Homo sapiens: one gene and its partner. The protein of the gene in region 1 interacts with the protein of each later gene in a biochemical or structural test. Each region holds a gene or a part of one and is shown on either strand. Other genes may lie near its edges.

Evidence for each region.
Region 2: the proteins of EDN3 (region 1) and EDNRB form a complex in vitro, tested with the Homo sapiens proteins (one study listed by BioGRID).

Annotation. Positions count from the first base shown.
Region 1 is NC_000020.11:59,317,497-59,324,777, forward strand, and holds part of EDN3 (endothelin-3 isoform 1 preproprotein), read left to right. Parts: intron 1-3,520; coding exon 3,521-3,697; intron 3,698-4,861; coding exon of another isoform or gene 4,862-4,875; coding exon 4,876-4,921; coding exon of another isoform or gene 4,922-4,960; exon of another isoform or gene 4,961-4,986; intron 4,987-6,169; exon of another isoform or gene 6,170-6,227; intron 6,228-6,830; coding exon of another isoform or gene 6,831-6,834; coding exon 6,835-6,963; 3' UTR 6,964-7,281. UniProt on the Homo sapiens protein: Endothelins are endothelium-derived vasoconstrictor peptides.
Region 2 is NC_000013.11:77,894,936-77,902,061, reverse strand, and holds the end of EDNRB (endothelin receptor type B isoform 1 precursor), read left to right. Parts: intron 1-854; coding exon 855-1,004; intron 1,005-1,407; coding exon 1,408-1,541; intron 1,542-2,094; coding exon 2,095-2,203; intron 2,204-3,727; coding exon 3,728-3,862; 3' UTR 3,863-5,503; coding exon of another isoform or gene 5,504-5,620; 3' UTR 5,621-6,575; downstream 6,576-7,126. UniProt on the Homo sapiens protein: Non-specific receptor for endothelin 1, 2, and 3. Mediates its action by association with G proteins that activate a phosphatidylinositol-calcium second messenger system.

The DNA of each region.
Region 1 (7,281 bases):
AAGTTGTTGAGAGGGTGAAGTGATCATCATGTAACATAAGAGCAGTATTACCAGGTCATGTGTCTCTGTGTGTACCTTGCACATACCTGTACCTACTGGCCTTTTTTCCTTTACCTGTTTTCGTAGTCCAACAGCATATAACTCCTGAAGGCATGGACACATAGGGATGTGCCTTTCTGTGTCCCTGTGACACTTACATTGATACCACGTATATAGTGGATGCTGAAGAATGTTGGAGATTCTTTCAGTGATTTTTGTGGTTATTGAACTCTTTAGGGTGAAAAGAATCCTGTCTCGCCAGACTAGAATGATCTCACCATGAATTACCAGTTGCTCAATCAATAATCTGTTCGCCTGGCCTTGTGTGAGGCCCATGGTGGGTAAAAAAGAAGTAAAAGACCTGCCCTCTCTTTTGAGGATCCAGTAATCTGCCTTTAGACTTGGGTAAGAAACACTGCAACTCTGGGCCCTGTGGGTTAGAGGACTGCCTCTGACGCCACTCTGGCCATGCCTCCCACCCCACTGTAAGAGTCTGGGACTCAAAGCCATATGCTCCCTCTTCAAGACCATGTTCCAGGTATTCAGGGGCTGGAATTCCCTACTCACGCATCCCCAAGACCACTTCCAGGGCCTGACACTTGGGGATGAGCAGGGCTCCAGGTACATATCTCCAGGCCTGCAGGGTGACAGCTGCTTACAGGATGTAGGGTGGAAGGAGCTTGGAGGAAGCAGCCTGGGGCATGCACGGGGAGTGCTTGAAGCCAGCGCTGGTGTGGGATGGCGCAGGATAGCAGAGAAGGTACTGGGCCTCCACCACATGTCGATACGGAGTGGCCAGGAGCCCAGGATTCTAAATTAAAAGCTGGACCTGCAAGGCAGCATTTGGAAGCCACATTTGTCCAGATACAGGAGATAACACTTTTTCGTTTCAGGGCTTATCAGATCGATTGAAACCTTTAAATGATTAGCCCTGTGGGAGGTGGGCCTCCATCGCGAACTCTCATTCCAGACTCTACAATGTCAGCGGCAGGCTCTGCTGGGCCGTCAGCTTCCCTCACCTCCGCACGGGTCGGTCAGCAGACTGCACACCCGGAAGGCCCAGGCCTTGGTGGAGGGGTTTCTGTGCCTCAAGGCTGTAGGGCAGGGGAGGGGGCCGTGCCTCTCTAAACTGCCAGAGCCTGTTTGCACACCAGCACTTTACCGCGCTTGGCGGCCGGGGAAGTGCTAAGCCTGTCTTCATTAACAAATACCATGTTGCCTTGTTTCCTTACTTAAAACACTTTGGAGTGTTTTGGCTCAAGTTGAGGGGCTCTACATGTGCAAATGCATAATCAGCTGACAGCAGTTTCAAAATTGCAGGTCTCACTATTGATGGAGAAATGGGAGCGTTGTTATTCCTTGTGTGTAATTTTCTCCAAGAAATGGGGGGATTGATTTAATGTCAACACTCAGAGATTTAATGTGGCCCTGTTACTGGAAAAATACACCTTTGCCAAACTCTGCCTCAAAACAATGTCTACATTGTCTTGCTGCACTCCCTACCCCCATTTCCCATTCCTGAGAAAAAACGGGCTTGAAGGAGGGTTCAGCTCAATACAGGGCTGGATCCTGCCCTCTGTCTCCGTTTCCTGAGCACAGATGGCTCATCAGCGGGGCCTGTCTCTGCCTGGAGGGATCCCACCACCTCTGTTTCTGAGGAACTTGGGTGGGAGGGAGTTAGTGGGGAGAACAAGAGTCAACGAACAGGGTGGGGTCAGTTTTAGGCTCTTGTGTTCAACCCAGCAGGGAGGCGGGGGCGGGGGACTCCCTCCAAGCCTTAGGTCACTATGGGGCTTCCTGGCCCAATTTGCCCTCACTGTCGCAAAAAGGCTTTATGGTGTGTGTTTCAAATGAAAAGAAATTCAATTTGATTTTATTTTGAAAATGCAGCGAGGGGCTGGGCATGGTGGCTCACACCTGTAATCCAGCACTTTGGGAGGCCGAGGCAGGCGGATCACAAGGTCAAGAGATGGAGACCATCCTGGCTAACACAGTGAAACCCTGTCTCTACTAAAAATACAAATAATAACAATAATAATAATTAGCCGGGCGTGGTGGCACATGCCTGTAGTCCCAGCTACTTGGGAGGCTAAGGCAGGAGAATTGCTTGAATCGGGGAGGCAGAGGTTGCAGTGAGCCGAGATCGTGCCATTGCACTCCAGCCTGGGCGACAAGAGCGAGACTCTGTCTCAAAAAAAAAAAAAAAAGAAAAAAAAGAAAAAAAGAAAAGAAAAGAAAAAAGAAAATGCAGAGGGGATGTCAGGACTCCCTTTGAAGTGGATAATTGGTACTACTCAGTGGGGTTCATGGAAACCAAGGTGGTTCATCTCTGGGGACTAGCAAGAAAACCAATGTTTATTGGAAAAGTGGCTTTGGCCACATGTTTCTTCTAGCTATTAGTAATTTGTTCCTCAAATCAAGCTAGTAAGTTAAGGATCTGCTTTCAACTTCTTCCCGCTGAACTGCCTGGCAGGCACCCCCTTTTTCTCTGGCAAGTGATGATTTGGATGTGCACACTCACTAGAACCAGCTTCCACGGGTTTTGCTCTGAACCACACCATCACACTCCTCCTGCCAACGCCAACCATAAACGAAATTGGTCAATGGTTTCAAGCCTTCTTCATCACGCGGCTCTTCTGAGGCTGGTTCCACTTTCAGCTGCATGGCCAGGCCCTCACCCGCCTCTCAGAGGTCACGGAGTGTTCCTTCTGATGTTTGTCTCTTTGAGGAAGCAACTTTCAAAGGCCGGGATGCATCTCTAATGACTGTAATTGCATTTCCCATCTTCTCATTAGCACAAACTGCTGTGCACATGGAAGAAATTCAGTCAGAAACCTCAGGTCTGGCCTCAGGCTGCGGGGTAGGCAGGTGATCTGATCAGGGCGAAGACCCAGACCAGCACGTAGGTTGCCCCACATGCCCTTGGCACAGGAAGAAAAGCCTCTGGAACAGGTGCTATGGTTGTCTTTAATTCTTTCTCGGCTTTCCATGGAATGAGGAGGAGGCCCAGATGGTACTTCCAGAGCCGAGGAGCAGAACCCGGCCCGGAGGAGCTAGGCCGGCCGTGGTTTGGTCTTGAAGAGAATGAAAGCCCACCCATGTTCACAGATCGCAGAGCCCCAGGGCGTTCAGGCCACACCTGCAGCTGGTGCCTTGGGTGAGGCTAAGGGGCTCACAAGTGCAGGCACACATGCCCAGACGCCTGCTGGGCTCCAAGAGTGCTGGCTGCTGCCCAGCTACCCAGACCCTCCATGTCCTTCCATGCCCTCAGCCCCAACTCTCTTCCTGGGGGTTGTGGAGGGCAGGGGGTGCACAGTTCACTCCAGAACCTTCCTAAGACCCAGAGCTGTAGTGGGGAGGGTTGTGAACACCAGTTTCTGAGACCTTTTCAGCCAGGCGGTGGTTCTCGCTCCACACCCTTGGGGGCCCCTGAGCAGGGAGGCCTGGGTGTGCTCACCTAACATTACCCTGTGCTTTGCAGACAGACGGTGCCCTATGGACTGTCCAACTACAGAGGAAGCTTCCGGGGCAAGAGGTCTGCGGGGCCACTTCCAGGGAATCTGCAGCTCTCACATCGGCCACACTTGCGCTGCGCTTGTGTGGGGAGATATGACAAGGCCTGCCTGCACTTTTGCACCCAAACTCTGGACGTCAGCAGGTATGACACCTCCTCCAGTTTCACTCATTTGCAGATATGCATCAACCCTCGGCAAGGCCAGGCCAGGGGCTTCTCAAAGGAGGGTGTAGGATAGTTCAGTCACATCCTGACCTACTGTCGTCCTGTGGGCCAGAGAAAGGAGGTGCTGAGCCCAGAAAAGACCCAGGTCCTCAGCATCAGGAGGGCAGGAGATGCAGCGTCCCCACCCCCTTGCTGCCTTTTGGAACAGAAGCTTCACAGTGGCCGTGGCTACATCTGGTTTCCAGACATATGTTTTTCTGGCCTGCACAGCACTTTGTGAAAATCTGAATAAGTTGCCAACACTTAAAAGATTGAAGAATTAACCCCTGCCAAATGCGTATTTTTAGCCTTCTCGAAAATAGCCCATGATAAGAGTGCAAAAGGCTTATTGGGAGGGGGGGGAACCCAGCACGTAGGACCATCTGGTCTCAGAGCCCCCCTTCTCTTTGGCCACCCTCAGCTGGAACTGAGTGGGGGCATCTCACGTTTGAGTAGGATGTGCAATATCCATTTACCTGTTACCAATTTATCTTACTTTGTAGCCCCTGGAGGCCCCCAAGTTTGAGACCCTGTGGTCTGTCCTGGCTGCCTTAGGGAAGCTTGCAAATCACGTTGAATGGAACCAACAGGCAGACTCCATGTTTGACCCAGGGGCTTTGAGCTGGTATTCACATAACAGGTATTCCTGTTAATGCTCCTTACTCCATCTTTTTCTTAACTTCGGGCCAAGATTCATGAACCCAGTGAGGCAGATTGGCCCTTTCAAAACCCTTCCTGGAGCAGGCGTAGGTGAGCTGCCCTGATGCACACAAAAGACACATAGGCAGGGGTGAGCTCCCAACACCCCAACAAGGCAGACGGTAGCGCTCAGGACCCCAGGATCTGCCGTCTGTGAAACCCAGTGTGAACTGCATGGTTTTTCCCCCCTTCTGGGCTTTTAAACATCCGATGAATAAGTGAGTGGTGAGTATATTCTGTACTTTGGTAGAAATCCACCCACCGAGTGCTCAGCCTTCAGAAACTGTGCCTGAGACGCAGTCCTTGGGGAACGCACTAATGTGCTCATTGGTGGGGAAGAGGAAGTCATAATTTGACACCGAAAAACCAGCCACAGGGAAAGGCAGGTTGATTGATTAAAACCAGCTCTCTCCCCACAGTAATTCAAGGACGGCAGAAAAAACAGACAAAGAAGAGGAAGGGAAGGTGAGAGGTGCCAACAGAGGCCTGTGTCAAAGGAGGTGAAGATGTGACGTGTCATTCCTTCGGGGGTGGGTGGAGGGTGTTTTGAGGGGATGGCATCTGGTCTGGTCCAGTGGGAACCCCAGATCTCATGGGATGCTGCACCCACAAGCAATGGTGCCTTTGGTGGACCGTTTCTGGGGGCAGAGCGGGCTGAAGCTGTGGACAGCTGCTGTCACTTGTCGGTCCCTGGCCACCCTGCTCTGTGTCCTGGGAGCCAGCCCTTGCATCCCTTGTAGCTCTGGGCAGTGATGTCCTGCCTGGATTTCACCTGGCCTGGACAAAGCTAGTCAACCACCGCTCTCAGAGGCCCTGTAGGCTGCTCTGCCCAGACCCACACTTCGCCTCTGCTTCCTTAGCAACATGTGGTCTTTCTCGTCAAAAAAATCATTTATTCTTTTCAGCAGCTGATTCTGGGCAGAGGTGAATTACAGCAGCTTGACAGCAGGGTCCCTTGGTTCTCCAGTTCATTGTATTATTTTTTTTAACCCACTTGTCTTTTTTGTATGAGAGATCCTGAGGGTTTCCTGCAGTCAAACTGGGTTTATTTGTCATTCTATCAATCAGAAGTCATTATTAATGACTCCGCAGCTCATCTGCAATGGGATGGTAATTTATGTTCATAATAATAGCCTGGAGGTGGCTTGGGTTTCTACAGAGACTGATCGAGGGAAGATGAAACCATGCTCAGTATACAGGAGCTTTCCAAATTGGTGGCAGATCGCTTCTAGTCTAGTCCAGAGAGGGATCTGTCAGCAACCATAATAAAAATGGAGCGGGAGGAGGAGGGCCGAGGCGGAAGAGACAGAGCCCGGGAGAGCATGAGTCAGACCCAGATGGTCCCACTTTGCCTCTTCATTCTTTTTCCTCTTTTTCTCTTCCTCACCCCAAACCAAAGCTCCTCTCAGCGAGGGCGGGATGTAATTAAACCCATCCATCCATTGCATCATTTATTCATTCGCTTATGCATTCGTTCAGCAAAGACTTGTTGGGCACCTGCTACGGGCTGGGCACCATTCTCGATGCTGGGGACATAGCAGGAACAAGGCATAGGATCTCTTTTATAGAGCTTAACTAGTGGGGATGCAGACAGCAAACATGTACAATTTAAAGTGAGATTGCAAAGAATAACAGAAAGACACGGCAAGGGTAGGAAGCGTGGGGTGGTTGCAGTTTGAGATGGGGTTGACGTGGCCTCATCTTTCTCACCAGGTGACCTGAAGGAAGGCTGGGAGGAGCCATAGGGATGAGTGAGGGAAAGGGATTTCAGGTAGGGGAACCGGTGAGTGCAAACGCCCTAGAGTGTGCTCAGGGAACGGCCAGAAGGGAGCCCTATATAGGAGAAGCACACCGGTCCTTTTGCTGTTGTGGTGATTATTACTGTTCTATGTCACATGTTCAAAAGATGCAATTGGTGGTGCAGATGTCCCAGCAGGGCCTGGAAAAGTGGTTCTTCCAGGTCTCTATGAGTCATGTAAAGCTCTAGTAAGAAGCTTTACTTGGGAAGAAAAAGTCTCTTATTAAGCCAATGTTCTTGCTTTCTTGCAAGATTCAAGTTAGTAATTCCCAGATTCACATTCTCAGAGTGGAAGCTGTCACCATCCTTAGCTTGTGGTAATCAAAGATGGGGCCAGGCTGCGGGAGGGCCCCTAGCAGCCTTGTCTGCTGGTGTTATTCTTTTCACACTTTTCCAGTCTGGTGGTAGGCTCGGAAATTGCTGAGAAGCACTGGGAAGAGGGTACATACAGTTCCAATCAGGGAACAGGCTGGAGAGGCAGTGGGAAGACGTTCCCTTTTTCAGCTTCACAGAACTACAGAGCTACACTTTCATAACATACCTTTCTTTTTTTTTCTTTTGCCCCCTTTCCCCAAGACAGGTTGAAGTCAAGGACCAACAAAGCAAGCAGGCTTTAGACCTCCACCATCCAAAGCTCATGCCCGGCAGTGGACTCGCCCTCGCTCCATCTACCTGCCCCCGCTGCCTCTTTCAGGAAGGAGCCCCTTAGGAGGACAGGCCTGCAGCATCCTGGTCTCGGGAGGCTTCTGTCATTGCTCACACACAGTTCAGATTTCCACCTCTTTATAGACAAGAAGTGAATTTGCCTGGGGCAGAACACCCACCCAAAGAGTCCCCACTTAACAATACCCCCCCCCCACGGCAAGAATGCCCAAATCCGAATGACCCCAGTTTTCCTAATGAGTAAAATGATCCCAGATGTGCCCCAGAGCATGACGCCTGCAGCTCCGGTTTCATGCAGGAAATTGGTTTTGGAGAGTTTTGGCAAGTTGGAAAGCCACTTACTGGCTTTTGACATGACTTCTCT
Region 2 (7,126 bases), on another chromosome or scaffold:
ATGATGATACTCGTTTCCAGAAGATAGATCCTGAGTGTAAAAGGCTCTTCCCAACAGAATGAGTTAAGAGACATTAATGCAAAGGGGGCTGGCTTAACTATTCCCAATGATTATTTTCTATTGAATATATAAGGAGACTAAATAAAACTTTATGAACTGTATATATCATGATAAGTAAAAGAATCAAGGACATAATGTGAAATTGAAAATGAAATTGCTATTTCCTTGTTTCCTATTAGTAAAAAGAAAAAAAAAGTGCTGCCTAGGTTACATAATTTCCTCTCCAACACAGATATATCTAAAGCAATATGAAAAAGATAACAGAGAAGAAAAAGAATAAGAGATACGACATAAGTCAAAAGCAGATTTTGTCTTTTTGCGAGGTTAGATTTATATGTTACTGAGCTAAATGGTTAACCTAGACCTTTTCGTATCTGTTGTTCCCATTAAACAAACTTGCTAAAAAATGAGAACTTCATCTAAACACTAAGTTATCTTTACATATTTAGGTGTTATATTTCACACAAAAAATACTCTAAGGATAAGTTTCTTATGTGAAGACAAAGCATTGAATTACCAAATATTTCAAATTTTGCCTAACTACTTAAGTTTTTGTGCATGCTTATAACACATTGTCTTAGAGAACTGAAATATTTTTGGGAAAATTTGTTTTATTTAACATGACTATTTATTTGTTCAGTAAGTGTGGCCTGAAAGATTCTGTATGATATATACAAACTGGATCTAATTTAGAAGATAATCATTCCCTGATGAATTTTTTTAAGTTTAACATTTGTTATATAAGATTTTCTTACAGAGGAGTATTAATCGTAAAAATTCTCTCATCCCTATAGTTTTACAAGACAGCAAAAGATTGGTGGCTATTCAGTTTCTATTTCTGCTTGCCATTGGCCATCACTGCATTTTTTTATACACTAATGACCTGTGAAATGTTGAGAAAGAAAAGTGGCATGCAGATTGCTTTAAATGATCACCTAAAGCAGGTAAGAAAATACAAATATTTGATAACTCGTGGTTGAATTTATAATTATGAATATGAAAATTATGATGATGATGATGATAAACTAACATTATTATATACCAGAGCATATTTCCTTTTTCTTGTTTCTGGTAGTTTTAAATAGATAAAGAATATTTTTATATTATTTATTTGGAGATATTCTATATAATCTAAAAGGATCTAGGGAGAATCAGAACTTTTTAAAGATGAATCTCTAGTCACTTCGGTTCCACTTCACATTAACTATTCCATATAAAGCTCAGTGTCCTGAGTTTTTACATATGCCACTGACTTTTTGTAGACAATATTAAATGTCGTTTTAGAAGATAGAATGCTATGAGTAAAATGAGCCATCTTTTAAGGGTCAAACTATGGATTTATTTCAGAGACGGGAAGTGGCCAAAACCGTCTTTTGCCTGGTCCTTGTCTTTGCCCTCTGCTGGCTTCCCCTTCACCTCAGCAGGATTCTGAAGCTCACTCTTTATAATCAGAATGATCCCAATAGATGTGAACTTTTGAGGTAAGAAAGGCAAACTAGAAATGGTTTTGTAAATAAATGCCACTCAGAAGTGTTTCCATCGATCTTTTTTATAGGCAGAAAGACAGACTACCATTTTTCTAACCCTTAGGAAGTCATGGAGACTCCCAATTTTTATCTGAGGTCCTGTTGAGAGGGACAGGGAAGGGGGGGTATGAAGAACACTGGGTACAGAGAGTCAGAGTTGTCAAGATGATGAGTGAGTGCCAAGGCGGAAAATGTCAGGTCCGATTCTCCAACGCGTTTTCTAAATTTCTTCTTTTCAGCCAGCTTCAGTACTTCCAAATGAGATTTTATTTTAAAAGAGAAGAATTGGGCCTGGGAAGGGGAAATGGAGGAAAGTCAGTAGAAATGCTAGAGTTAGAGGGGGACACAGACAGAGACAGGCAGAGAATCATTGTTAGCAAAGACGAGTGATAAATTTAGAACCATTGTATATTGGCATTTTTTTTCCTTACAAAAGCACAGAAGCTACAATGACTACATGTTCAGAATAGCATATTTTTCAGACACATTTTGGGTTATTTTGTTGCAGCTTTCTGTTGGTATTGGACTATATTGGTATCAACATGGCTTCACTGAATTCCTGCATTAACCCAATTGCTCTGTATTTGGTGAGCAAAAGATTCAAAAACTGCTTTAAGGTAAGAGACTATCCCAAAATAAAAAGCTCTTTGTAATATGGCTCAAATATAAGCTTTCAAAACTGCTAATATATCTATCCAGACAGATTTAGTAAATTATCTTATAGTTTCCCTTTTATTACATCATGGATGATTTTTTTAAATACAACTTTTGCTTGTAAATCACTATAATTGTTTTTTCCTATAAATCCTAGTCAGCCACTCCCTACTGCCTCAGCCAATCAGTTACACTCATGGAATTGTTGACCAAAAAGTAATAAAAATTACATGCATTGATGTCTGATAGGCATCACATAATAAAATAAGGGCTAAACATGAATTAAAGGCCCTGTTCCCTGTTTTTGGTAGATTCTGAACTTCGCAGCTGCAATTATTATTATAACTAAATTAGTTCCTTTTTCACATGGACTGTGAGAATAGCAAGGTAAACAAAAAAAAAATAGTTTAGGTTTTACCTCTTTCTTCCTTTTTTGTATAACAGTGATGTGCTGTTCAATGTGAAATACATATAATTCCTTCTTCAGCTGCTTGCATTTTATCATCCTTCTATTCATTCACTCCTTCAACAATCTAACATGAAATAAAATATCCCCTCCCCTAATGTGAAAATCATCCATTTGTCCATGGTATTTCACTACTGGAAAGCTAAGAACGTAGCTCCCGCGTAAACACTAAGGCAGCCTATAACATTCTTCGCCCACTCATAACTCAAATTTTAGAGTTGGAAGAGAACTTCCATCAGGATCAACACCCTCATTTTATAAGACATAAAACAGTGGACTTCTCATTTTCTTTTACAAATAGAATGAACAGAAGACAAGCAGAATGAAAAAATTTTTATATTTAAAAAAACTTCAAGAAAAAAATTGAAGAAAACTGAGATGCTTTTGTACTATATAACCTTATTGTTTACCAATATTGAAAAGAGATATGAGAATACATGGCTGAAAAAATAGGAAAGCAGTATTAAATTCATTGACATGAGAAGATATTTATGTCACTGTCAAGTGAGAAAAAGCAGGTTAAATCTTCTCAGCAAAGTGGCTTAGAATAACTTGGGATGAGGTGTTTGTGAAAGTATCTACAAGGTTATGGAGTATACATACAGTACAGTCTCAGTAAAATAATTATACTCACATTCTCCAGCACATGCACATATACATGTGTATAATTTATTTATTTCATGTATGTGCAAATATTTCTGTTTTCATGGGGAAAAGTCTTGAATTATATGTTTATCAAATATTATCAAATAACCAAGAGTAAATATCAATTAAAAGTGGCTTTCTCTTGTTGAGAAATTTTAACTATGTAGGTTTTTTTCTTCTCTGCATTTTTTTAGTTAAAAAATTATCATATGCTACTACTGTGATTATATTCTTTTAAGAGGGAAAATAAAAGAGCACTGAAAGAAAGGGCCCAAGAACTCCTAATCATACAAAGAAAGTCAGAACCCTGGAGAGGAGGAAGAGTTGGGAAAGGTGACTGATGTTAACATATAATGAGTTACTTTGTTTTGTACAGTCATGCTTATGCTGCTGGTGCCAGTCATTTGAAGAAAAACAGTCCTTGGAGGAAAAGCAGTCGTGCTTAAAGTTCAAAGCTAATGATCACGGATATGACAACTTCCGTTCCAGTAATAAATACAGCTCATCTTGAAAGAAGAACTATTCACTGTATTTCATTTTCTTTATATTGGACCGAAGTCATTAAAACAAAATGAAACATTTGCCAAAACAAAACAAAAAACTATGTATTTGCACAGCACACTATTAAAATATTAAGTGTAATTATTTTAACACTCACAGCTACATATGACATTTTATGAGCTGTTTACGGCATGGAAAGAAAATCAGTGGGAATTAAGAAAGCCTCGTCGTGAAAGCACTTAATTTTTTACAGTTAGCACTTCAACATAGCTCTTAACAACTTCCAGGATATTCACACAACACTTAGGCTTAAAAATGAGCTCACTCAGAATTTCTATTCTTTCTAAAAAGAGATTTATTTTTAAATCAATGGGACTCTGATATAAAGGAAGAATAAGTCACTGTAAAACAGAACTTTTAAATGAAGCTTAAATTACTCAATTTAAAATTTTAAAATCCTTTAAAACAACTTTTCAATTAATATTATCACACTATTATCAGATTGTAATTAGATGCAAATGAGAGAGCAGTTTAGTTGTTGCATTTTTCGGACACTGGAAACATTTAAATGATCAGGAGGGAGTAACAGAAAGAGCAAGGCTGTTTTTGAAAATCATTACACTTTCACTAGAAGCCCAAACCTCAGCATTCTGCAATATGTAACCAACATGTCACAAACAAGCAGCATGTAACAGACTGGCACATGTGCCAGCTGAATTTAAAATATAATACTTTTAAAAAGAAAATTATTACATCCTTTACATTCAGTTAAGATCAAACCTCACAAAGAGAAATAGAATGTTTGAAAGGCTATCCCAAAAGACTTTTTTGAATCTGTCATTCACATACCCTGTGAAGACAATACTATCTACAATTTTTTCAGGATTATTAAAATCTTCTTCTTTCACTATCGTAGCTTAAACTCTGTTTGGTTTTGTCATCTGTAAATACTTACCTACATACACTGCATGTAGATGATTAAATGAGGGCAGGCCCTGTGCTCATAGCTTTACGATGGAGAGATGCCAGTGACCTCATAATAAAGACTGTGAACTGCCTGGTGCAGTGTCCACATGACAAAGGGGCAGGTAGCACCCTCTCTCACCCATGCTGTGGTTAAAATGGTTTCTAGCATATGTATAATGCTATAGTTAAAATACTATTTTTCAAAATCATACAGATTAGTACATTTAACAGCTACCTGTAAAGCTTATTACTAATTTTTGTATTATTTTTGTAAATAGCCAATAGAAAAGTTTGCTTGACATGGTGCTTTTCTTTCATCTAGAGGCAAAACTGCTTTTTGAGACCGTAAGAACCTCTTAGCTTTGTGCGTTCCTGCCTAATTTTTATATCTTCTAAGCAAAGTGCCTTAGGATAGCTTGGGATGAGATGTGTGTGAAAGTATGTACAAGAGAAAACGGAAGAGAGAGGAAATGAGGTGGGGTTGGAGGAAACCCATGGGGACAGATTCCCATTCTTAGCCTAACGTTCGTCATTGCCTCGTCACATCAATGCAAAAGGTCCTGATTTTGTTCCAGCAAAACACAGTGCAATGTTCTCAGAGTGACTTTCGAAATAAATTGGGCCCAAGAGCTTTAACTCGGTCTTAAAATATGCCCAAATTTTTACTTTGTTTTTCTTTTAATAGGCTGGGCCACATGTTGGAAATAAGCTAGTAATGTTGTTTTCTGTCAATATTGAATGTGATGGTACAGTAAACCAAAACCCAACAATGTGGCCAGAAAGAAAGAGCAATAATAATTAATTCACACACCATATGGATTCTATTTATAAATCACCCACAAACTTGTTCTTTAATTTCATCCCAATCACTTTTTCAGAGGCCTGTTATCATAGAAGTCATTTTAGACTCTCAATTTTAAATTAATTTTGAATCACTAATATTTTCACAGTTTATTAATATATTTAATTTCTATTTAAATTTTAGATTATTTTTATTACCATGTACTGAATTTTTACATCCTGATACCTTTTCCTTCTCCATGTCAGTATCATGTTCTCTAATTATCTTGCCAAATTTTGAAACTACACACAAAAAGCATACTTGCATTATTTATAATAAAATTGCATTCAGTGGCTTTTTAAAAAAATGTTTGATTCAAAACTTTAACATACTGATAAGTAAGAAACAATTATAATTTCTTTACATACTCAAAACCAAGATAGAAAAAGGTGCTATCGTTCAACTTCAAAACATGTTTCCTAGTATTAAGGACTTTAATATAGCAACAGACAAAATTATTGTTAACATGGATGTTACAGCTCAAAAGATTTATAAAAGATTTTAACCTATTTTCTCCCTTATTATCCACTGCTAATGTGGATGTATGTTCAAACACCTTTTAGTATTGATAGCTTACATATGGCCAAAGGAATACAGTTTATAGCAAAACATGGGTATGCTGTAGCTAACTTTATAAAAGTGTAATATAACAATGTAAAAAATTATATATCTGGGAGGATTTTTTGGTTGCCTAAAGTGGCTATAGTTACTGATTTTTTATTATGTAAGCAAAACCAATAAAAATTTAAGTTTTTTTAACAACTACCTTATTTTTCACTGTACAGACACTAATTCATTAAATACTAATTGATTGTTTAAAAGAAATATAAATGTGACAAGTGGACATTATTTATGTTAAATATACAATTATCAAGCAAGTATGAAGTTATTCAATTAAAATGCCACATTTCTGGTCTCTGGGCTGGACTGTGTGTTTCATTGTTGTGAAGAAACAGATATACAGACATGCAACTTCCCAAGGTTGATTTTCCGGGTAATAGTTTCCAATGGCCTCTTTGGTCTTCCTTTCTTTGGTTCCCTGCCTTTGGAGCACTTCATTGTTTCATCATTATTGTACCTTAGCAAAGGTGAAAGTTTGAAATGAGGTTTAGGGATTGCTCATTGCATTTCACAAGCTTTTTTTGAGTGTTTTCTATGTGAAAGATGAGATGAAATTCACAAAATGCAAGGTCCCTACTTGATAAGAGACAGTGATGATAAACTTTAATATGAGGCAAAATGAAATGAGCACTAAATAACTGCATACTGATTGCTGCAGAAGTTCACCTGTCTGTGTCTCTCAGCATGTAATCCCTTTCTTCACCCAACAAAAATAATCCAGAATTAGCAATTGCTTTTTTCCCAGACAGTAAGGTCAAACCCAGCCGAGTATTCCAGAGGTTGCTATCATTTACCCCTGACCTTTCCTGGATTTCAGCTGCCTAATTTTAGCTGGCACTTCAAAAT